Linked DNA regions of Homo sapiens: region 2 is linked to region 1. The links come from fine-mapping of genetic effects on gene expression. A gene starts in region 1. The other region holds a variant in brackets. All regions are shown on one strand. Distances are from middle to middle. Region 1 holds the start of BPGM (bisphosphoglycerate mutase). Region 2 has its middle 40 kb from the start of BPGM.

What was found.
Region 2: its variant is fine-mapped to the expression of BPGM in aorta (GTEx, PIP 0.96).

Annotation. Positions count from the first base shown.
Region 1 is chr7:134,641,844-134,653,447 of GRCh38, forward strand. It overlaps BPGM (bisphosphoglycerate mutase), which reads left to right and starts at 5,010. Exons shown (of 3, transcript NM_001724.5): 1 at 5,010-5,094. The region is part of intron 1 of LOC124901750 (a long non-coding RNA gene); the gene reads right to left. RefSeq lists enhancers at 4,987-5,136, 5,237-5,346 and a silencer at 8,354-8,648.
Region 2 is chr7:134,601,098-134,612,701 of GRCh38, forward strand. No RefSeq gene overlaps it. Among named protein-coding and RNA genes, the nearest start is that of BPGM, 40 kb to the right of the region's middle. The variant T/A (reference allele first, on the strand shown) is at 4,946.

The DNA of each region.
Region 1 (11,604 bases):
TTTTGTAACTAGCTGTGCAGTCTTAGAAAAATTATCTCTCCCAGTTTTACTTTCCTCATCTGTAAATGGGGACACATATGCCAGGAGTTTTGTGAGGATTTACTGATGGAGCCCTGATAGTTTGGCTGTGTCCCCACCCAAATCTCATCTTGAATTGTATCCCCCATAATTCCCACTGTTGTAGGAGGGACCTGGTGGGAGATAATTGAATTATGGCAGCGGTTTTCCCCATACTGTTCTCATGATAGTGAATAAGTCTCACGAGATCTAATGGTTTTATAAGGAGAAACCTCTTTCGTTTGGTTCTCATTCTCTCTTTGCCTGCCGCCATCCATGTAAGACATGACTTGCTCCTCCTTGCCTTCCATCATGTTTGTGAGGCTTCCCCAGCCACATGGAACTGAAACTTCAATTAAACCTCTTTCTTTTGTAAATTGCCCAGTCTTGGGTATGTCTTTATCAGCAGTGTGAAAATGGACTAATACAAACTCTGATTTCCATCCACCATCCCCTCCATATCACCTCCCCACCCTGGCTCCTCAGCTAAACACCTTTTCTTCAGGTTAAAGAATAGAAAACTCTGTGGAGACAGAGGGTAAGCAGAAATCCTTCAGTAGCTATCAGGCTACTATCTTCACCTTTCTTAGCTCTGTAATATCAGAACATAGAGAAAAAAATTCCTGGCCACTTTATCAGTCTCCATGAAGAAAGGGTGGAGCCAGTAGGCATTGCCATTGGTTCAGTAGACATTCCCGGAGCACCGTCATTTAGAGAAAGCAGCAGCCCATTTAAATCAATGAATCTTTTTAGGAAACTGAAACAAGTTCAATGCCCAAGAGTAGAGAATTGGTTGGACAGTTCTCTACTCTTGTACATACCACCTGGATGCACATTCACGTAATGGGATTATATACGGAAGAAAAATATTAAATGACATTGGGACATGTTAATAACAAATTAAGTAGAAAAGATTGCCACAAAACAGTATATATACTAAGAGTCCAGGTTTTTTTTTAAGTAATTGATTTATGGGAAAAATAGGATATACAAAATGTTAAAAATAAATTCTGGAGGGTGGGATTATAGGTATTTTAAGTTTTTTCTTTTCTAAACCTTATACAATAAACATTTTAAAACATAAATTTATAATTAATAAATATAAGCTTTAAAAAAAACTCCATAGGGCAGAGTTTGTGTTTACCAGCATATAAACAACAAGCATTTAAAGAAACATGGGTTTTTCCTTAGTGGAGTAGAGAATTTGTAAAAGAGGAAAGCACCTCTCTTGATTCCTCATGTTTCTACCTTTTTCCCCTATCCTTGTCCCAGATCTGAAAGTAGTGGGGAAAAAAAATCAACCTGGCTCTTTTCCTATGCCAAGGTGCTTAGTCAATGTTTAGTTTTACTGTAGGGGAATTTCACATAGATCAGGCTTCCCAATACCAGAGGTTCCTGGCTCTGCCACTGGGTCTGTACCCTCTTTGGCATTCACTTCCTGCCCATTACCTCCCTGGGTAGCTGCAAGATAGCTGGGGAAATCCCAGTCTCATGCCCTCTGCAAGAGTCCAGGTCTCCACTTGAGTGGAGAGCAGGAAAAAGAGGCAAGCGCAATGCCAAGACTTTACTGAGTAATTTGAATAAGAATACTTGTAAATAGGTAAAATGCTTTACATTTATCATTACCATAATTGTTAAGAATAACAACTACCATTTATGAGATGCTTTCCATGTGGCAGGCACACATCACATTATCCCACTTAATTTTCACATTAGCGATTTGGGTATTATCTCTGTTTAACAGATAAAGACACTGAGGCTGAGGTCAAGCAATTTGCCTAGGCTATTCTGCATTTTGCTAGCCTAGCAAAACCATTGGCTCCTTCCTTCCAGCAAACTCTAGAGTTAGCTATGATTGTGAGGCTTCCCCAGCCACATGGAACTGTAAGTCCAATTAAGCCCCTGAGTTCCCAGTGCTGGAAAGTGACAGACACAAGGTGCTTCAAAGATTGCAAAGCTATTCCAAAACTGCCTCCATGATTCTTCACCCTACTCTGTGAGGAAGATGAGGATTCTAAGTTTTAACTTCTGAAAGAAAGGGACAGACTTTAAGGTCCCTTCTGAGAGGTCTGGATGGCTGACCCATAACAGCATTTCCAGTTTTTAGTTTCAGAAAAGGGAGTCTTGTACTTAGGAGGTCAATGATGGGGGCCACGCATAGGTCTATTATACTAGGTTACGAGTGGTAAATTTTAATCTGACCCTGAAGTAAGTAGGGTACAGTTGGAGACTAAACACTGGCAGCAAATAACCAACTCATGGTGTGTCCTGATACTGTGAAGAAAAGGAGACACTCCTGTACATGGCATATAGAACTAGCTAACTCTGGAGTTTGCTGGAAGGAGGGAGCCAATGGTTCTGCTAGGCTAGCAAAAGGGAGAATAGCCTAGGTCCGTGGATGATGTTTTGATGCACGGTGGACCAATTCAGCCATACGTGGAAAAGGCTAGAGGCTCTGTGCACATAACTGTGAAATTATTTTGACCAGGTATGTATGCTATCAATAAAATAGTGGTTTATTCAGGTCACAAGGAAGACAATTTTCAACTAAAACTCAAAGTATCACATGGGTTAATACTGACTTTTTGATATACACCTGTAACAGAAAGGAAGACAAAGAGACAACATAGCTATAATAATTTATTGCTTTTCATTTCTTGTTTGGATAAAAGTGAGACTACATCAAAAGCTGTTTGATGACACTGAATTATTTTCATAGTATCTATATCACTTGCTGTATCAGAACTGAAGTCCTCATGACTGGTCTTCAATGGAAGTGAATCCTAAAATTAATCTTAATTTAAAAAATACATTGCTTTTGGGGTGAGGAGGAGAAGGCAGCAGGAAGAGGAAGCATCTTCCCAGAATTATATGAATTAGCAACCTTGGGTCCTAGCCCAGGATTTGTCCCCAACCAAGTAATTCTGAGCACATCACTTAAGCTTCAGTTTCTTTATCTGTACAACAAGGAGCTAGAGTTTAATTTCCAAAGCCCTGTCAAGTACTAAGTTTGTACAAGTCTAATATTCTTTGGAGTTCATCTTTGCCTTAAATGGATTTATGATCATCTTTGTGAACCACGACCTCGTTATTTAAAAATTCATAAGAGAGACAGCTCATCGAATAGACCAGGACACAGGGTTCAGGATATGATACTGTAACATAATTAAGTATGGAGAACAATCTTGCCATAGGGCAAAAGTAACTCCTGAAATTCTGTTAGCCTCTGTGCACATTTGTCTTACAAACATGCTTGCTCCTGATGAAAATCTGCTTTTTAATTCCTTCTAGACAGAATCACTGATATAAGCTTCCATCTTATATCAAAATGACTCATTCATAAGCCACATACTCTTGCGAATGATTCTAAAAGGCAAGTGATGTTTGATATTAAGGTTTTATGTGACAAGCTAGCATTCCATGGGTGTCCATAACAACAGTAAACTTAAATCCAATGAGTAGGCGCCCTTAAGTCCAGACTAAGTAGCCCTAAATGCCAAATGCCACAAGACTGTCACTTGGTAATGACTGTCATTAGCCTCCGGAGTATGGATGGTGGGCACTCTGAATAGGAGCTTTATTACACTGTAGAAGAAAAGCTTTCTCCTTACTTTGTCCTCAACTGATATTGAGAAAAAAGCAAGAGGGCAAATGTATAAGATTTGGAAGCTGCCCCTTCCAGCTGTTCTGGCCTGAACTCTAGTTAATCTTGTGCAAGTTAAATTCTAACTATCACTAGGTGAGACCTATCACCTGCTGGGACCTGTCAAGCCTCGGATTAGTGCCGTCCCGGAAGTAAAGTTCTGTTGATATCCCAGGAGGAACTGTCATGCTCTAACATGGATAAATGAGATACAGAACTGGCTACGATTAGGTCTTAATGAGTTCAATAAAGAGTGTGTCACAGAATTTCAAATGTGGAAAGATTATCTTTTCAACTGTATGTATAATTTATTCTGAGGACTTGCTTGCGTGTCACAAACCTAATGCATTTGTTAGGAGGATGAAACAGGAAAAACTCACAGGAGGACACGAAACACTACTTAGGATAGCTTCTAAGAAGGGAATCTCCCATAACATTCCTTATCTTTCCCGCCCACCCAAGAGTTCTGACACATATGCTTCAAAACCTCGTGTGGTAGTTCAAGCCTGCTTAGAAGCTTTTAAGGCCTCGTGCCAGGTTTCCGGTGTTTTCATAGATTTCTCTTGTTCAGTTATTGTCGCCTCCAAATTTGTCATTCTCTCATTCCACTCTAGCCTCCCTTCCTCTGTGCAATAAGCTTTTAGGGCATTCCATTAATCACTTTTCTTCCCCACCTAAAATACTGTCAGCAAACTGCCTAGGGGAATCCCTATAAAAGCGGTAAGAGAAAGTAAGGTTGCGTTACTGCCTATAAATTGGGCACTTTAAAGGCATTTGTTTTAATCACGACTTAAGACTTTCAACCACGAGTAATTTGTGCGAAAGGAGCTTCTTCTGGGAGGATACCTCGGCTTCGTCTTCAGGTTTCAATCCCTAAATTTCCCATAAGTAAAAGAAACATCACCTCCTCTCTTCCAAGAGTCCGCTGACACCTGTCTTCACCCGCAGGTGTTTCTTTTAAGACGTTAAACGCTTTCTAGAACCTCAAACAGCTAAGATGCTCCCCGCACCCGAGGTTTTGCACCAGCGACGCTCTAGGGTGTGTTTTTCTACTTCCCTAGGCCCAAGCCTGCCCGCTGGCGTCGAAGCCAACTCCTTACTGGTTCAGGTATGTGCTCGTCTCTAGAGTAAACCAATCAGAGCCCCACTTCTTACTCCTGGGATTTGGTAAACGGAAGAGACCTCTCCTGTTCCGGGAGTAGGCCGGGACCGTGGATGAGTGACAGTTCGACTTTCCAATAGGCAGAGCCCTAGGACCTGCCCACGTCTGGTTCAGGGGCTAGAAAAGAGCGTCGATGCCGGCGGCAGTGATGAGTCCTAGGAGGCGCTGGCTCTTTGGCGGCTCGGAGGAGCGGCTGCTGCTGCTGCTGCTGCTGCTGGTGGCCCCTTTGCAGGTGAGTGGCTTTGTTTTAGAAAATGTTGCGAACGTTTACATTTTTTAGTGATGTGATGTTTTATTTTTGGGTGCGGGGAAGGCCAGTTTCTTTACTTCCCCCGGTTTAGTCGTTGGTGGGAGTCTGGTGCCCACTCCAGCCCTCAAGCTGGGACCCTCACTTATCGCCCCGGTCCCTTTCCCTTGTCCCTATCTCAGAATGAGCCTCGCAGGCAGTCACCGTTCTGTCAACTGAGAGGAGGAGCCCGCTTTGGTAGTGCTGTCCTTATGGCAAGAATATATAGAAGTTGGAGGGAAGATAAACTCTCTTCTGGATGTCTGAGGTACTGTGTAGCAGAGCCCTTCCAATAGTAAGATCCCCTGGAAGGAAGCAGGGCGATGCCGCTGTATTTAGGGTTCTGGCAGACCTGGCCCTATCTATCATTTTGTGTAGTAGACAGAAAAACTCGAATGCGGTGAAAAGAGAAGGAGGTGAATATATGCAGTGTTTTCATGTAGGAATCTGGAGCCAAATCACAAGTTCTTAGAACCACTAGAAATAAAAACGTAAGTGTATTTTCCTCTTTTCTAAGGGACGAGCTGGTATTACACTAGAGAAGGTCAATGAAATGCATAATTGCAGTTAAGTTCACAGTTAAGCTTTAAAGAATAGTTGGTTGTTAGCTAACTTATAACTCTCATCCCCCTACTGCCTCCCTTGCAAATTACGGAAGATCTTTAGCTTGTGAGTGGTACTAGAATGTTAGCTGACTAAATGCAGACTCTTTCCAAGAAGGGGAAAAATCAAAAGCTAAGTTTCACCTGTAGGTACTAAAGGTTTTTTAATAGTGAAAGCAGAACTCATGTCAATTTGTCTTTTATTTTTTATTTTTTTTGAAACGGAGTCTCGCTCTGTCGCCCAGGCTGGAGCGACTGCAGTGGCTCGATCTCGGTTCACTGCAACCTCCGCCTACCGGGTTCAAGTGATTCTCCTGCCTCAGCCTCCCAAGTAGCTGGGATTACAAGCATAGGCCACCACGCCTGGCTGATTTTTGTATTTTTAGTAGAGACGGGGTTTCACCATGTTGGCCAGGGTGGTCTTGAACTCCTGACCTCAGGTGATCTGCCTGCCTCGGCCTCCCAAAGTGCTGGGATTACAGGCGTGAGCCACCGTGCCTGGCCTTGTCTTTTTTCTTTCTTTCTTTCTTTTGTTTTGGTTTTTTTTTTGTTTTGTTTTCAGACGGAGTTTCGCTTCTGTTGCCCAGGCTGGAGTGCAATGGCGCGATATTGGCTCACCGCAACCTCCGCCTCCTGGATTCAATCGATTCTCCTGCCTCAGCCTCCCGAGTAGCTGGGATTACAGGCATGCGCCCCCACGCCCAGCTAATTTTGTGTTTTTAGTAGAGACAGGATTTCACCATGTTGGCCAGGCTGGTCTCGAATTCCTGACCTCAGGTGATCTGCCTGCCTCGGCCTCCCAAAGTGCTGGGATTACAGGTGTGAGCTACCGCGCCCGGCCTTCTTTTTTTTTGAACTGCCTCCCGTGAGTCCAGGGAATAGCTCTTTCTTAGCCATCTTTGTATTCCAGTAGCACCTCATACACCGCAGATGCTCCCCAGTTGGTGGTGGACTTCAGAGAAGCATAATTCAAACAGTGTCATAGTGGAAGGAGCTCTGAGTTAGAAATCAAGAACATTGGCTTTAGTCCTGAAACTGTTACTATTTGTGTGATCTTAAACAAATCATTTCAACTGTGACTCTTAATTTTTGCATTTTTTTTTTGAGACAGGGTCTCGCTCTGTTGCCCAGGCTGGAGGGCAGTGGCGCAATCTCTGCTCACTGCAACCTCCACCTCTGCCTCCTGGGCTCAAGCGATCCTACCATCTCGATTTTTGCATCTTTAGAAAGCAGATGTTGCATTAAATTATATCTGAGATATAAACTCTGTATTTAAAGTCTGTTTTAAAGTAAAAATTATTAGTATACAAGCAGAATCTCATTGCAGTAAATTCTGTACCATCTATTAGCAAGTAAAAGTTCCCAGCTTCAAGGATATATTCTTGTTTTTTAATTTTTAATTTTTGTGGGTACCTAGTAGGTGTATATATTTATGGGTTACATGAGATATTTTGACATAGGCATGCAATGCATAATCACATCAGAGTACATAGGGTAGCTGTCACCAAAAGCATTTATCCTTTATGTTTCAAACAATCCAATTGTACTCTTTTAGTTATTTGAAAATTTACAATTAAATTGTTTTTTTTTTTACTATAGTCACCCTGTTGTGCTAGCAAATACTAGGTCTTATTGATCTTCCTATTTTTGTCCCCATTACAAGGATATACTCTTTTGTGTTCCTATTTAAACCAAACCAGATTATTGTAGAAAATTTGGAGCATACCGAAGTATAATGTGGCAGAAAAATGTCACTTAGAAGCAACTACTGTTAGTGTTTGGGTAGAGCTTTTAGTCTTTCTTCCTCTTTTGCCTGCTGTGGTTGGTTGAGATTAAGAGGCACATTTTAAGTAATGATTGATGCACCTAAATTCACCTGGCCTTCATCTTTGTGTGTCTGGGGCCTGAAGAACAGAGGTCACAAACGTGTTTGAACCGAATGGTTTCTTGAAACATCCTTGGAATGAAATCTGATATGAAAGATGTTTATATGGGTGGCAGGACAAAAAGTATTACTTAATAACAAAACCCTTCTGCTGAAACTTAGCCACAAATATGAGGAAAACATACTTTGTAAAATATAAATTAAATGTTAACCACTTCATTAAAGCATTTGGATTGCAGAATATTAGTACTTGGTAAGCTTCTGAGACTGTATCTTACCATCACCTTCTTCCATCCCACAATATTTGATTGCATTCCTCCTTCTACCACCTAATTTAAGCATTTCTCCTCTAATTCCTCCCTTCATTTTACTTTATTCCCAGCTTTCGCTTCTGCTCATATCATCGGCAAGGTAGGATTGCTTTGACGGGCCTGAGATCTGTGCCATTATTTATGAGTTAGTCAAAGTCTGCTCCATTCTACCTCTCACTTTTTGGTAGAGTGCTTCACCATAATCTCATTTAATCTTTCTGATAGCCCCCTGAGAACAGTAGTTTCATGATCCTCATCTTTATAGATATGGAACCTGAGGTTCAAAGAATTTAAATAAGTTAAGATCACATTGTCAGTCAGTAGCAGAGCTGGGCTCATATCTAGGTTGTTTTTACTTTAGACTTTTGGAATTTGGTGGACACAGTTTGTGTTGATAAAAGCTACTACCCTGGGGAAGACAATGACCAGAGATAGGAAGGAGGGGTCCGTCATGAGTGGGTGTTGTCCACAGTGGTGATGCCATGCAGGCTGGAACATGCAACATGCCCTGAGCAAATGCACATCTCATTACATATGTATATCTCTTCGCCATGAGTAGGGATCTGCCTGGTATGGTTGGTTATTCTTGTAACAAGCAATCAGTAGGAAATATTAGTAGATGTAAGATTGGGGAATGAGAGGGTTTTAGTGTCTGGAAAACACCTGTAAGTGGTAACATTTGCTCCTGTAAAATGATGTTCTTATAACTGCAAGTACAGATGAAAAAGTTTCTACAAAGCCTTAGGAAAAGTAATAGACCATGGAACACTTTTAGGTACAGTTGTGTTTGAACTTCTAATAGTGAACTTGATTTGGGGGAAGGCATAGTTTGTTAAGACATTAAAAGCCTTGGCCGAGCACGGTGGCTCACGCCTGTAATCCCAGCACTTTGGGAGGCCGAGGCGGGCAGATCACGAGGTCAGGAGATCAAGACCATCCTGGCTAACATGGTGAAACCCTGTCTCTACTAAAGATAACAAAAAAAATTAGCCGGGCGTGGTGACGGTCACCTGTGGTCCCCGCTACTCAGGAGGCTGAAGCAGGACAATGGCACGAACCTGGGAGGCGGAGCTTGCAGCGAGCCGAGATCACGCCACTGCACTCCAGCCTGGGCGACAGAGTGAGACTGCGTCTCAAAAGAAACATTAAAAGCCTTAAGGAACTGAGCCCCAGATTTCATTTCCCTTGAGACCTGTTCCTTTTTACTTTGTTAAAGACATGGTTCTTTTTCTCTGTCCTCAAATAATAGCCAGCCCATCTTCTATAAAGTTAGATTCCTCTTGCAGTGGGGGTTAAAAGTTGCTCAAAGCCACACAATAAGGGGTTTGGACCAAGGAAAACGTCATCTGAGTGTCTAGGGTAGCAACTGACTAATATTTAAATGTGAGCTTTGAATCTAAGTGACTCTGGTTCTATTTGTCTTATTTTATATAACTTCAACATTATATTGCTGATCAAATTTCTTGCTTAAACGTTGGAAATACAAGAAAAACTAGGTTTTTAAGTTGGACTTTACCCTGTAGTTTGTCCTATTTGTCCGTGAGTTGTACCACTAGGGTCTTAGGCATTATTAACTTTCAAACACGTGAGGAAGGGAGGAAGCAAAGTCCCAGGAGTGTCAGTTTGGAAGACAGGATGAGCCTCAGTTATGGGGAGTACTTATAACAGAGGAGCCTCAGTTATGGGAGAAATATAATGTGAAATTATATTTCACATAATTTCATATGTGGAATTATATAGTTTAATGAAGGAGTAGGAAGCAGCAGCAGATGATCATGCTACATTTGTTGAAAGTACTTAGGGATCTCAAAAATATTAAGAGGGGTAACCTTAGTAAATGCAGTGCCTTGCAAGTACATCACTCCCCTATCTACAGTCCCTGTCTTGCCAAAAAGAATGCTAATCTTGAATCATAATTTTATGTTTCAATTTTATGGTGGCATTATGGAAAGAATATTCTTTGCTTTATAGCTAACTTAGATGGAATTTCTATACATTTATAGTGAAAGATCTTTGAAAGTTATAAGTCACCTGCAAAGTATGTTCTTTGATTTGTTTATTGTCAAAGCAATTACATAGCACCTACTCCTGAGCAAGTATACATTCCCCTGAAGTGTGAGGCACTATGGGATAATTTATGAAGATGTCTAATGGGGTAAAGTGTGTCAAAATGACAGATGATATTTTTGAAGGAGATTAACAGGATGAATCCTATAGTTTTCCCCTATAGTTCAATCTTGAACCTATTCCTAAATAATTTAGTTAAGCAAAAGTCAAGTACTCAGACTGATTTAAATGTCTTCAGTATTGCCTTCTGTGAGGAATAAAAACAATTATGAATGGGATTCCATTACTCATGGTACTTGCCGTTCTGGCCAAGAATAAAATCTAGTGATTTCATAATGTTGGGATTATTCTATGACGGGATGCTTAAAGGTTAAAAATGCTGATGTCATTAGTAGATCTAAGTGTGGGATCCAGCTAGGCCAATATCGGCATATTGAGGGCTTCTGGCCTATACCGTTTTTTAAAAAATTTACATTTTTAATTTTAAATTATGGATGCATAATAGTTGTATATATTTATAGGTATATGTGATGTTTTGGTACAGATATACAATATGTAATGATCAAATCAGAGTAATTGATTTACCTCATGCATTTGTCTATTACCTCATGCATTTATTTTTTGTGTGTTGGGAACATTCTAATTCCATTATTTTAGTTATTTTAAAATGCAATAAATTATTATCACCCTATTGTGCTACTGAATACTGATCTTATTTATTCTAACTATAGTTTTGTACCTGTTAACCATCCTCACTTTAACCCCCTCGCTCCTGTTACCTTTCCCTGCCTCTGGCAACCATAATTCTGCTATTGCAATACATTCAATTTTCAAAATTTTTAGCTCCCACATATGAGTGAAAACATGTGAAATTTGTCTTTCCATGCCTGACTTATTTCACCTAACCTTAGGCTCTCCAGTTCCATCCATGTTGTTGTGAATGACAGGGTTTCGTTCTTTTTATGGTTGAATGATATTCCATTGTATATATGTGCCAAATTTTCTTTATCTGTTCATCTGTTGATGGGCACTTAGATTGCTTCCATATCTTGGCTATTGTGAATAGTGCTGCAACAAACATGGAGTGCAGGTATCTCTTCAGTATACTTATTTGCTTTCTTTTGGATGTATACCCAGTGGCGGGCTTGCTGGATCATATGTCTACTACCTGTTTTTGAACAGCCCACAAACTATGCATGGGTTTTACATGTAAAACGGTTGAAATAAATTAATATTTCATGTGCATGAAAATTATATGAAATTCTAATTTCAGTGTCCATACCTGAAGTTTTATTGAAACAGATTTATTCACTTATATATTATGTATGGTGGCTTTCAGCTGCAATGGCAGAATTATACAATTGTACCTAATTATGGCAGAGACCAGTATAGCCTAGAAAGCCTAAAAAATTTGCTATTTGGTGGTTTACAGAAAAAGTTGCTAACATCTGAGCTAAGCTATAGTGTCTTTCACGTTTATCTCCTTCATCTCACTTAAACGGCCATTGTCCTGGTCCAAGTCTTTATTCTGTGTTACCAGAATTATTGCAAAAACCTCTCAGCTAGTGTTCATACTCCTGGGTTTTCCTGT
Region 2 (11,604 bases), 41 kb before region 1:
TGGGGTATCATGTTGGTAAAATACTCTCAAATTACTAAGGAAAAAAAGTTCTTTGTACGATTTCTGCAATTTTTCCTGAAATTTTTTTCTGAAATTATCCAAAAGAGAAAAAAAGAATCATTAGTTAGTTAATAAAGAAAATAAAAAAGACAAACTAGATACAAAGCAGAATTGAAAAGAAATGATTTGGGGAAGAATCTTACATATTCTTTTTAAAATCCATTTTATTTTATGTTGAACATTAAAAAAAACACCAAACATAAGGGTCTGTCCCCTTTACCAAATCAGTTTGCAAAAATGGAAAAATTGTTAACTGGGAAGAAACGTCACTAAATCAATGTGAGTAATAAAACTGGTTTTGCTGGCCATGGTGGCTCACGCCTATAATCTTAGCACTTTGGGAGGCCAAGGAGGGAGGATCTCTTGAGCCCAGGAGTTTAAGAGCAGCCTGGGCAACATGGCAAAACCCTGTATCTACAAAAAAGACAAAAATGAGCTGGGCATGGTGGTGTCAGCCTGTAATCCCGGCTACCCCAGGGGGCTGAGGTGGGAGGGTCTCTTGAGCCCGGGAGGTGGAGATTGCAGTGAGGCATAACCATGCACTCCGGCCTGAGCCACAGAGCAAGACCCTGTCTCAAAACAGAAACAAAAACAAACTTGTCTGAGTAGTTCTCAGACAATCAGTGTATCAAAATGGCAAAGCAGAATTTCAGAAGGACAGAAAAACAGTATTTGTTTCTACAGTATATTAAGAAGGTGATAAATGTTTTTAAAAGTATACAGAAATGTCAAGAGTTTTGTCATGGTCCCAGGGTTACAGAAAGACAATGACCTTCCTTTATGTGGCAATAACAGGGGTTATAACAGTTTTTAAAAACATTTCATAAGCAGTGAATATTTACTGATCATTCATGTTTCTCCTGGAATTCAACGCTTAATCAATATACAGGGTCTACCTTTTGGTTTCTGTAAAAACAAAAATCACCCAAGCTTAGGTTTTTTAATTGTCTTAGTAACATTATCAAACTCTAATCATCACCTGAGACACACATTTAAGGTTCTACTTTTTTTTTATAATAAACTGTAATGACTTCCACAGGTTGGTTCTCTGCAGTTTGGATTTCCACGTCCAGATATGGTCTGATCAAATGTTAAGTTTGCTGGCTGAGTTCTCGGCACCATGACTTTGCAGATGCACCTTGCTCACCCTGTCTTTAGATTTGGGATTTTGACTTTTGTTTGTACAAGATACATCGTTGTCACTCTCTCCCACCAAGGCCAGGGCTGTGGACTCTTGGAGGAGAGCAGGCTTGTGAGAATCAGAAACAGCCACATGTCCCCAGCTCATTCTTTCTCTTAAGAACCTCTTTTCCTGGTGCTAGTTATTGTAAAAAAAAAAAAAAAAAAAAAAAAAGTCCCAAAAAAGTTATTTTAAAAAAGTCCCACATCTCCCATGTATACTCTTCAGAAGAAACCACATGCCAAGTATTTTCTTAAAAGTACACAATCAGAAAATTAGTAAATTGGTAAAGTTAGAAACTACAACCCTTCCTAAAGTATTAATATTCCCACATCTGCCAAAAATAAAGTTCCCCCTCTTCTGCTTGCCTCTCAGATAATTTAACGTCAGAAGAGGCTTTTTCTGAACCCTATACTTTTTCTTGGCAACAATTTGGAGCTAGCCCTAAAGGCACTGGAACTCTTGAATCTGCTTCCTTAATTTCTGCTTCAGCTCTCAGAGGGAACAAGTGATCTTGGGAAAATACAACTTTCGGCTCCTTTTGTCTCCTCTGATTCCAACACTAAAGGGGCAGCTTCTGTCCGTTTAGCTTCACTTGATTTATTTATAAACAAACAGTTAATATTCTAAAGCAGAAAATCCTGCTGCAATTGGCGTGTCCTAATGTTTTGTAACTTAGTTCCGTTCTACCCACAAGCCGGAAACCAAGCATCCAGACAAGGACTTTAAACACTTGCTTCATCGTCATATTATCAGCTGCAATTTCACCCATTATGCATTCACTAGGTACAAAGCAGCACACTCATAGCGGCAAGCTCTACCACCTGAAAAACTAACAGCTTTGTCTCACTGGAGCCCTGCCCTTTTTCTGTGCAAGATGTGAGCTAGGGCTGGTAGAAAAGGTAACTCCAAGGCTAGCATGCAGCCGTAGGCTTCAGGCTGCAGGAGAAGGGATGTGGCTGATTTAGGAGGTTTAGCATGTGCCTGCCAGTCTAGAAGTGGAACCAAACGCATGTTCGCTGCTTGCGGAGTCTAATTAACAAGAGCGAGGTCTGGTAGAAAGAAAGTGACTTTATTAACCAACACTAGTAAAGGGGAAGCTGCTGGATTCCTCCTATCCAAAGGAACTGCTTTGTATCTAGCGGGGAAAGCAAGAGTTCAAAATGGGAAAACTTGGTAAGGAAGGCATGCAGGAATTGTGCTGATTCCAATGCCTGTGTGTCTTGCTCTGGTGGCTGTCTTGGGTCCCAGGCCACCTGGATCTCAGGCTGGCATCATCTTAACAATGGCTGGGTTGTTGACTAGTCACCTTGAAGTCATCTCTGGAATTCTGTAGCGGGGTCTCCAGACTTGGTCTGCCTAAAAATTAGCCCCATAATAATTATGTGCCTTTAGACACTAGCATGCAGTTAGATAAATGTGAAGGGACTATATTCGGTGAGAAAGAGGGACGTGGAGTCCATTTTAAGGCTAAGGAAAAAGGCTTCTGCAGTTTGCTTCAAGGTTATATGTTGAAATCCAAGAGAAAGGAAAAAAAACGTTTAAAATGCATTTTGAAGTTAAGTTGCCTAGTTACAGAATCATAGACTCGAGGCTGGTGGGGCCCAGAGGCACTGGAGGTCTTCTAGATCTTCAATATTACACACAGTCTGGCTAATGTTTAAACACCTCTAGGGATCAGGAATTCACTTCCCAACGAATATTTAGGAGAAAATCTTGTGTTTAGCAAGTCTTTCTTAACGTGCAGCTAAAATGCCATCTTCCTTTATCCTCCATTTGTAGATCTCAATTCTGCATGCAGTGACGGCACGGAACGGGTCTTTTCCTATTCCTAATGAAAGCCCTCCAAATATTTGATATAGGTCTTATATTCCTATGTTACACCCAATTGTTTTTGATGAATACCCCCAATTAATGGATACAGTTCAAATTCCACAAATTAAATTCATTTTTAAATTCAATTTATTAAAAATTGATTTATTAGTTTACTAATATTGATACATCAATTAAATTACATAACCTCAATTAATACAGTTCCAAATGGATGTGTGTTTAATACCCTTGGCTTTAAGAGAGAGAGAGAAGGCCGGGCACGGTGGCTCACGCCTGTAATCCAAGCACTTTGGGTGGCTGGGGCGGGTGGATCACGAGGTCAGGAGTTCAAGACCAGCCTCGCCAAGATGGTGAAACTCCGTGTCTACTAAAAATACAAAAATTAGCTGGGCGCAGTGGCAGGCACCTGTAATCCCAGCTACTCAGGAGGCTGAGGCAGGAGAATTGCTTGAACCAGGCGGCAGAGGTTGCAGTGAGCTGAGATCGCACCACTGCACTCCAGCCTGGGCGACAGAGCTAGACTCCGTCTTAAAAAAAAAAAATAACAAGAGAAAGACAGGAGGCTCCAGCTGAATCTTTTAGGCTGTCAGTACCTTAGTAGGGTCATTTTGAGACCAAGGTCCAGTCTACAGTTTTTGACATTTAAAAAATTATTTCTAAAAATGTATTTTTGTTAGTCCACTCAGGAATAATATCGGGGATGATCCATAATAATCTAGTCATTAAAAAACTGATAAATATAGTAGAATCTTACATAACTATTCAGAGAGATATATCCATCAAGCCGACTGAAACATATGTGCACCTGCCTGCTGGTCATATATGATCTTTTCAGTAGCCAGAAAACCTTTGAAAATGATTTGCATATCAGAAGAGTGATTATAATAAATAACTTAAGCCTGAGGCACTTACCATCTTGATTGATCCTAAGGACAGAGCACACTGCCATATGCCTGCAGCCCAGTGGGTAGATCCTCTTTTGATAGTTGTGGAGGGAGATTCTCATAAATTCTGGATGAATGATTCTTCCCTTTCAATATTCATTATCAGACATACAAGTCTTCCATCATCTCTGTATTTGGCAGTATGTGTAGTGGCTATGAGGCTTGTCTCTAGAGTAAGTATTTATCAAATGAAGGACTGAATACACAAACCACATGCCACCGGGATAGGATAAAGTCAGTTGAAGTTTAATGATGGGAGCATATTTTGCTGGAGTATAGTTTGAAAGCATTGCCTTTCCAGATAAAATTTGTAAAAGACGTCACCTCAGGCTCCTTCCTATGGTTTAGAAAACACTCCAGTTAGTAATGTTTGTAACATCTTTTGGGGGAGTAAGTTGATTCAGAGATGAGATACAGGATATCCATTTTTATTACTTTCTATTGAAGAGGGTGGAATTTCTATCTTCTCCATCCGACTGGGTACACCTACCCGGAAAGACTCTGTAGCTCCTATGCTCTTTCTACAGTAGAGAAGGGCTTCAGAGAGGACAGGATGGATGACCTCAGCCCCCCAGATAAAGGAGGATGTGAGCTCAACTGCTGCAGTTGGGGAAGCTGAAATGTGGTAAGGGATTTCAGGGAGTGGGGAAGGCTTAGAATACTTCCATGAGGAATCCCCTAAGAAGTTCATGAAGAATGAAAGTTGAACATTGAAGTCACCACTGAGGTTACATATCACATATTTAGAATTAAGTCACTGTGCAGACTTTTGTAATTTTCTGCCAAGCACCTGGCTGCCCAGAGAAAGAGAGATAAGAAGGTTGATTTTTTTTTTGTCTTTTTTCTTGTTTCCTTTTTGTGGAGAACAGGGTCTCGCTATATTGCCCAGGCAGGTCTCGAACTCCTGGGCTTAAGCTATCCTCCCGCC[T/A]CTTGTCTCCCTGAGAGCTGGGATTACAGGCGTGAGCCACCATGCCTGGCCAAGAAGTTTGATTTTATCTAGTGCTGGGAATTGCCTAAGTACAAAGGATTCCAGGAGGCCTAGTGACATTAACTGATCTTTAAATAGAAAATCGTTAAGGGTTGTTTAGCAGGAAATGTTTCAAAGCAGGGGAAAGGCTACCCATGTAGACAGATAGGAGATGATTATAGACAATTAACCTGAGAGTAACCTGTCATCTCCCCAATGGCTGAGGTCTCACCATTTCTCTGGTTTACACTTGCATGGGGCTTAAGATCTTCTTGGCCCCAGCTGACTGACCTCCCTGTATTATTTGCTATTGTTTGTTTAATTCCACTATTGTCTTACCCCTTCAAACTTCAGGCTTTCATTATAAATATTAATAATCTGACTTGGTGCCCAAGCTGGGGGACAGTCTAGTTGGGGCTCTGCTGCCACCTAGTGGTCTTTAGTCGCTTCGCATGTCTATGGTGTCTAGGCTACGAAGGGGGCAAGTGAAACCAAGAGACGGCTTGAATAGAAGCATTCAAGGGGTCTGGAGTTCACGACGAGGGTAAACAGAAAAAATTATGAGGTACCAGGAAGACAGAAGAATAATAGTTTGTAGTCTAGAAGAATTTCAGAGTTTGAGATCTTGATGATGGAGGAGTACTAGGGAGGATAATACCAAAGAAGTGGCTATGGTTGGGTGTGGCTGAAAAAGACTGAAGAAGATTAAAGTTGAAGGTCAAGGAGTTCAGGGTCAGTTTGTTGCAAGGGCCATTTACATTCTCCACTTAGAGGTGAGTGTCCCTGTGTTAGGGTCCACGTTTCGGTAATACGTATTTTTTATCTTCCACACTTCCCAATACAGTGTCAGCAAAATGTTGGTGGAATTGACTTGAGTGTTGAAGAAAAAAATCACTCACGATGATTGTAGGGGATGGAGTGATGATTATAACTTTGGACTTGCTGATCTATACTTTTAGATGAGAATGGCTTCAAATAGGCGGCTTTCTCAAGCCAGGCAGCTATTTTCACTCTTTCAGTGACTGCCCCAACGTATCTCCACTGGACAAATCTCCTCATTCCTGGTATTTTACAGTTTGTTGTGATTCCTTCTAAGGCAGGAGAATATCCTGGATGTTGCTGTGTGCTCATTGTCTGAAATGAGCACACCACATGTAGCAGTGCCCTTCTTACCTTTCCTGCCATTGATTCTCCATGTGAACTTTCTGTAAGCAAGATGTTCATCCAGGAGTTCTCCAAAGCCTACCTTCTTTTCACTCCTTTCTGAGTTTGTAAAAAATTTTGGGAGTCAGTTACTCTACTTTCCCATACTACTTCAGGAAATTTGGAATTCCTGCACATCTGTTTCCTGGGTAAGTTGGCTCTTGATTGCACTGTTTTCAGTCAGCTGGGTCTTTGGCCAACCCAGAGTATTCCTTTGTTAATTCCCACAAGCTAGAGGATTTCTAGAGATTTTTTTTCATTCCTTATTCTGTGGACTCTTTATTTCTTCTCACCCTAAATCATCTGCTTGCCTCACCCCTGCCCCACTCTGATTTAACTCCCATGTGGCTCATTAGCTCCAAGCCAGTTTGCAGCGACTCCCAGGCTCTCAGCTGCCTGAAGGATTGGCTGCCATAATGGACACTTTGATGACTATTCTGGTTGTCTCTTGATTCTTAGGACATCTTTGTAGGCCAGCCTATCTATAAGATGACTTCCTTCTTTGTCAGCTATAATAATGGATATTGATTTTTTCCTAATTTTTCATTATAGGAATTTTGAACATATAGAAAGTTAGAGGGAATAGTGTATTGAATGTAGTGTACATATCACTCAGCTTTAGTATCATTTACGGACAATATTATTTCATCTGTACTTTTTTACTTCCCTGATTATTTTGAAACAAATCCTAAACATCATATCCTTTTATCTGTCAATGACAGTGCATAGCTTTAAAAAATAAGAACACTTATTGTGTCTCACCTAAAAATTAGCAAAATTTAGCAAACAAATTTCCAAAGTCATTCAGACTAGAATAATAGTGGTTGAGAGTAGCTCTTCTTGTTTAGAAAAATTTTAGTTTCAGCCTGAGCAAAAACCAAAAAATCACAATTAAGCTTTACCACTGCTAAGCCATTAAATTCTTGTTGATAGGGCAATTCAGGATATTCAGCTTCTATTTTTGACAAAAAAATCATAGAACTGCAGATGTTTACACCACAAAAGTGAATAAGGTCCATTTTGGACATGACCTGTTCAATAACATATGATAGAATCAAACATGTTATGCAAAGTACCTACTGATGAATGATTACAGGTTTTAACATCTTACTTTTTCACAAGCTTTTAAATGAGTCCATGTAACCCTTTGTCTGCTTCACACAAATTTTTACCACCGTGTAGCACATCTTAGCAGATTCTACTTCAGATTATACTGAATTAGAAATTTTACCAACTTCTTTGAAAATATTATTCTCACTTGTAGTTATTCCATACAGACTATTCATAGAACCTAATTCTTTAGTTACTTCAAACTTAGCATTGATACCTCAAGTAAAAAACAACAGCTGAGCAGTATCAGTAGCATCTGTCTATTCATCAAGAGACAAGGAAAGATACTCAGAACAATTAACTTTGTTTTTAACTATTGATGTTGCTCCCAATGTCCTCAACTTTTCAATCAACTTTTGTTACCAAAAGACTCACAGTCTTGAACAAGTTTATTTTCTGCGGACACATTTCTTCAGCTAATAAAAACACAGTTTAATTAGCTTACCATTGATAAATGGGTTTCCTTGCTTGCTAACAAATGAACCACTTGGAAACTAAGTTTGGTTGCAGCCTCATTTACATTTGTAATTCTTGTGAAGAAATTCCACTATAATAAGATATTCTATTTTAAATTTCCTAATTGTTCTGCCTGTTGCTTTCCTGTGAATTGGACATATTGTGATGAGTGCTTAGTCTGGCAATGTTGACATATATTCTGTTGTTTTAGCATAGTTATAGTGTCAGTGCATACTAAACACATGCTTTCCGATCTAATTCAATTAAAAAAAAGCCAGATGCCACAGTAACTTAAAAGTGCAACATTTGAAGTTGACTTTTCTTGTTTTGACATGAAAGATATGCACTGATAAAATAAAATAAAAGTAAAACAAGTATGCTTGGCACTTGAAACACTGTCAAGTCAACTCACTAAGCAGCAGTAAGAAGTGATGAAGATTTCACAAATGGTCCCTGTTGCAACTCTTCAACTTTGCTGTTGAAACTCAAATGCAGCCATAGACAATATGGAAATGAAAAGTGTGCTATGCTATAGTAAAACTTCATTTATAATATTCAGCTTTAATTTAAAATAATTTTCATATCATAAAATATTATTGTTCTTTAGATTTTTTTTTCAATTATTAAAAAACGTAAAAACTGGCCGGGCGCGGTGGCTAACGCCTATAATCCCAGAACTTTGTGAGGTCAAGGTGGGCGGATCACTTGGGGTCAGGAGTTCGAGACAAGCCTGGCCAACATAGTGAAATTCTATCTCTACTAAAAATACAAAAATTAGGCCAGGAACAGTGGCTCACGCCTGTAATCCCAGCACTTTGGGAGGCGGAGGTGGGCTGATCACGAGGTCAGGAGATCAAGACCATCCTGGCTAACACGGTGAAACCACGTCTCTACTACTAGCCAGGCGTGGTGACATTGCACCTGTAGTCCCAGCTACTCAGGAGGCTGAGGCAGGAGAATCGCTTGAACCCAGGAGGCGGAGGTTGCAGTGAGCCGAGATCACACCACTGCACCCCAGCCTGGGCGGTAGAGCGAGACTCAGTCTCAAAAAAAAAAAAAAAATTAGCTGGGCATGGTGGTGCATACCTGTAATCCCACCTACTCAGGATTCCACTGCTGAGGCAGGAGAATCGCTTGAACTCAGGAGGCAGAGGTTGCAGTGAACTAGGATGGCACCACTGCACTCCAGCTTGGGTGACAGAGTGAGACTCCTTTTCCAAAAAAAAAAAAGTAAAAACCATACCAAAGGCTGGATGTGATACATGGGCCATAGTTTGGCAATCCCTGGTCTAGATCAAGGCACCTCTAAAAATTTCACAGATGTGTCATGCCCTTGAATATTTGTAGGGCTTATCTTCTATCACCTGAGGTGCAGATGCCTTACTTAGGCATTGAGAACTCTAGTCACTTTTTGCTACCAGGTCTGCTTGGCATGATCTCATCAAAATAGTGGAACAATGACCAGAATGTCCAGGTGATCAAGGTCCATCATCTGTCTAGTTCAAACAAGGACCAAACTGGTAAATTGAATGGGTTTTCATGGGGAGAATCACTCCTGCATCCTTTAAGTGTTTGAGGAAGACACAAATCACTTCAGGATGCAGCAAGTAGCTACTTGAGGAAAGATTGTGAATAGCTACTTTAACTACTTGCTATGGCATTGCTGGCACTTCCTCAAGGGGACATGGCCCTTTAATCAGTGTATTCTAAGTCTTAAAATGGCCTTAGTTCTTAAAACGGGACAAGAGATCATGATTCCCTATCATGTGCTGACCAACCCAAGGTGTTTTTCAGATTATTAATCAAACAATATCTTAATGTATGTAGCTGCTAGGATACCATAGTTTATTAGTCTTAGGCTCCCTAGTTGTTACTCTGGCCTTGTTACCCATTAGGGTAATTGAGTATACCTGTCTTCCTGCAAGGTTGTTGTGGAAATTAACGCAGCAGCTAATTTCAACAATCCTACCTTTCGACAGTTTTATGCTGTCATCTGGCTATTCTAGATCCTATCATTCTTATTGACACCAGGGAGCCCAGTTTCTGAGAGTGTCTCCTACTATCAATCTTGACCTACAGAGGACACACAACATTGAGTTTCTCAAGGTGCTAGTGCCTCCTTTATGAATGCTTTATTCCTTATTGCTTTAGTAAAGAGAGCATCCTCTGGGTCCTCATGGGAAACATAATCATCTAGTGGTTCTTTGGTGTCTCACAATACATCAGTTCTAACATGCCTACCTTTCTGAACTTTTAGATCCCTTCCTCTGCCAAGGAATTTCCAGCATCTCTACCTCATTTACTGCAGACATAATTGTTTACAAGCTGCAAGGAGCTATTTTAGCAGTTTATTAGCAGTGGCTCCAGCTATCCATACCAGGACAAGCTCGGGGAGGAGAAAGCAAAGAGCAAGGAGAATGAAAGAACAGACCACACGCCTTCTTCCCTCTGTTAAATCCATCAACCAAAAATCAGTTCTGAACTGTGGGAGGGGAAACATGTTGAAATGCATTACAGTTTGAAGTTTTTAGCCAGATAGTACATTTTAGTACCTGAAAAGTCAGATTGTTTTAACACACAATAGTGGCTGGAAAGTGATTGCCTATGATATCTCCAAGGAACAGGGAAGAGAGGAGAACCAATGGTATTCTGGGGTTGGGGGACAAGATGTTGCTCTGCAGTGAAGTGGTGTGATCTCAACTCACTACAGCCTCAACCTCCCTGGCTCAGCCAATCTTCCCATCGCAGCCTCCTGAGTAGCTGGGACTACAGGGGCACACTACCATGCCTGGCTAATTTTTTCATTTTTGTAGACACAATGTCTCACTATGTTGCCCAGGCCGGTCTTGTGTTTCTGGGCTCAAGTGATCCTCCCATCTTGGCCTTCCATAGTGCTGGAATTACAAGCATGAGCCACCATGCCTGGCCCCAGTGGTATTTTTGAAGGCAGTGGTGCAAGAAAAATAGCTGTTTCCTCATTGTTCACTACCAATTACAGACAGTTCAAATAACAAGCTGTACAAGTATTGCAGTGCAAAATGGAGTTACTGCCTCTTCGTTCTTTGATTTTTTTTTTCCATTTAGGAAATGGGTTAAAATAAGCTATTGTGCAATATGAAATTACTAGACATTCTGTCCTTTATAAACACAAATACATTAATTCTGCATACCGTAATATGTGAACCGGTTTTGGAGACTGGAGAGTAGTAACATAAATGCCATACAGGAGCTTTAGCCATTCACTATGGCGCTCAAGGAAGGAAATAAATGTCTCATCCATGGCCATGGGGGGCGGCTGTTCAAAGAGAGCTTAATGAAACAGGTTATACTTAAACAGAAGTTGACATGCTGAGTGTGGTTTTGAAAGATATACAGAAAAAATGATTTCTGAGTATAGAGAACAATAGGAAAAGGTATGGCAGTATACTAAAAATGAGTAATCCAATTTAGATGAAACAAAGAATCTATGAAGAGATATAATGGAAAACAAAGCCTGAAAAACATACTTGGCCAATATCTGAAGTCTTGGACACAAGGTGGCAGGATTTATACATTATAGGTAGGCGTATGCTATGGTTTGCATACATAGTTCACATGTTGGATGTGATCACCTTAACACCCAAGGTGATGGTATTAAGAGGTGGGGTCTTTGGGAGGTAGCGAGGGCTCCATCCTCATCAATGAAATTAGTGCCCTTATTAAAGGACTTGAAGGCACCTGTTAGCTTCTTCTGTCTTTTCTGCCATGTGAGGATGCTGCAAGAAGGCACCCTCACCAATTACTGAAGCTGCCAGCACCATGATCTCAGACTTCTCAGCCTCTAGCACTGTAAGAAATACATTTCTATTGCT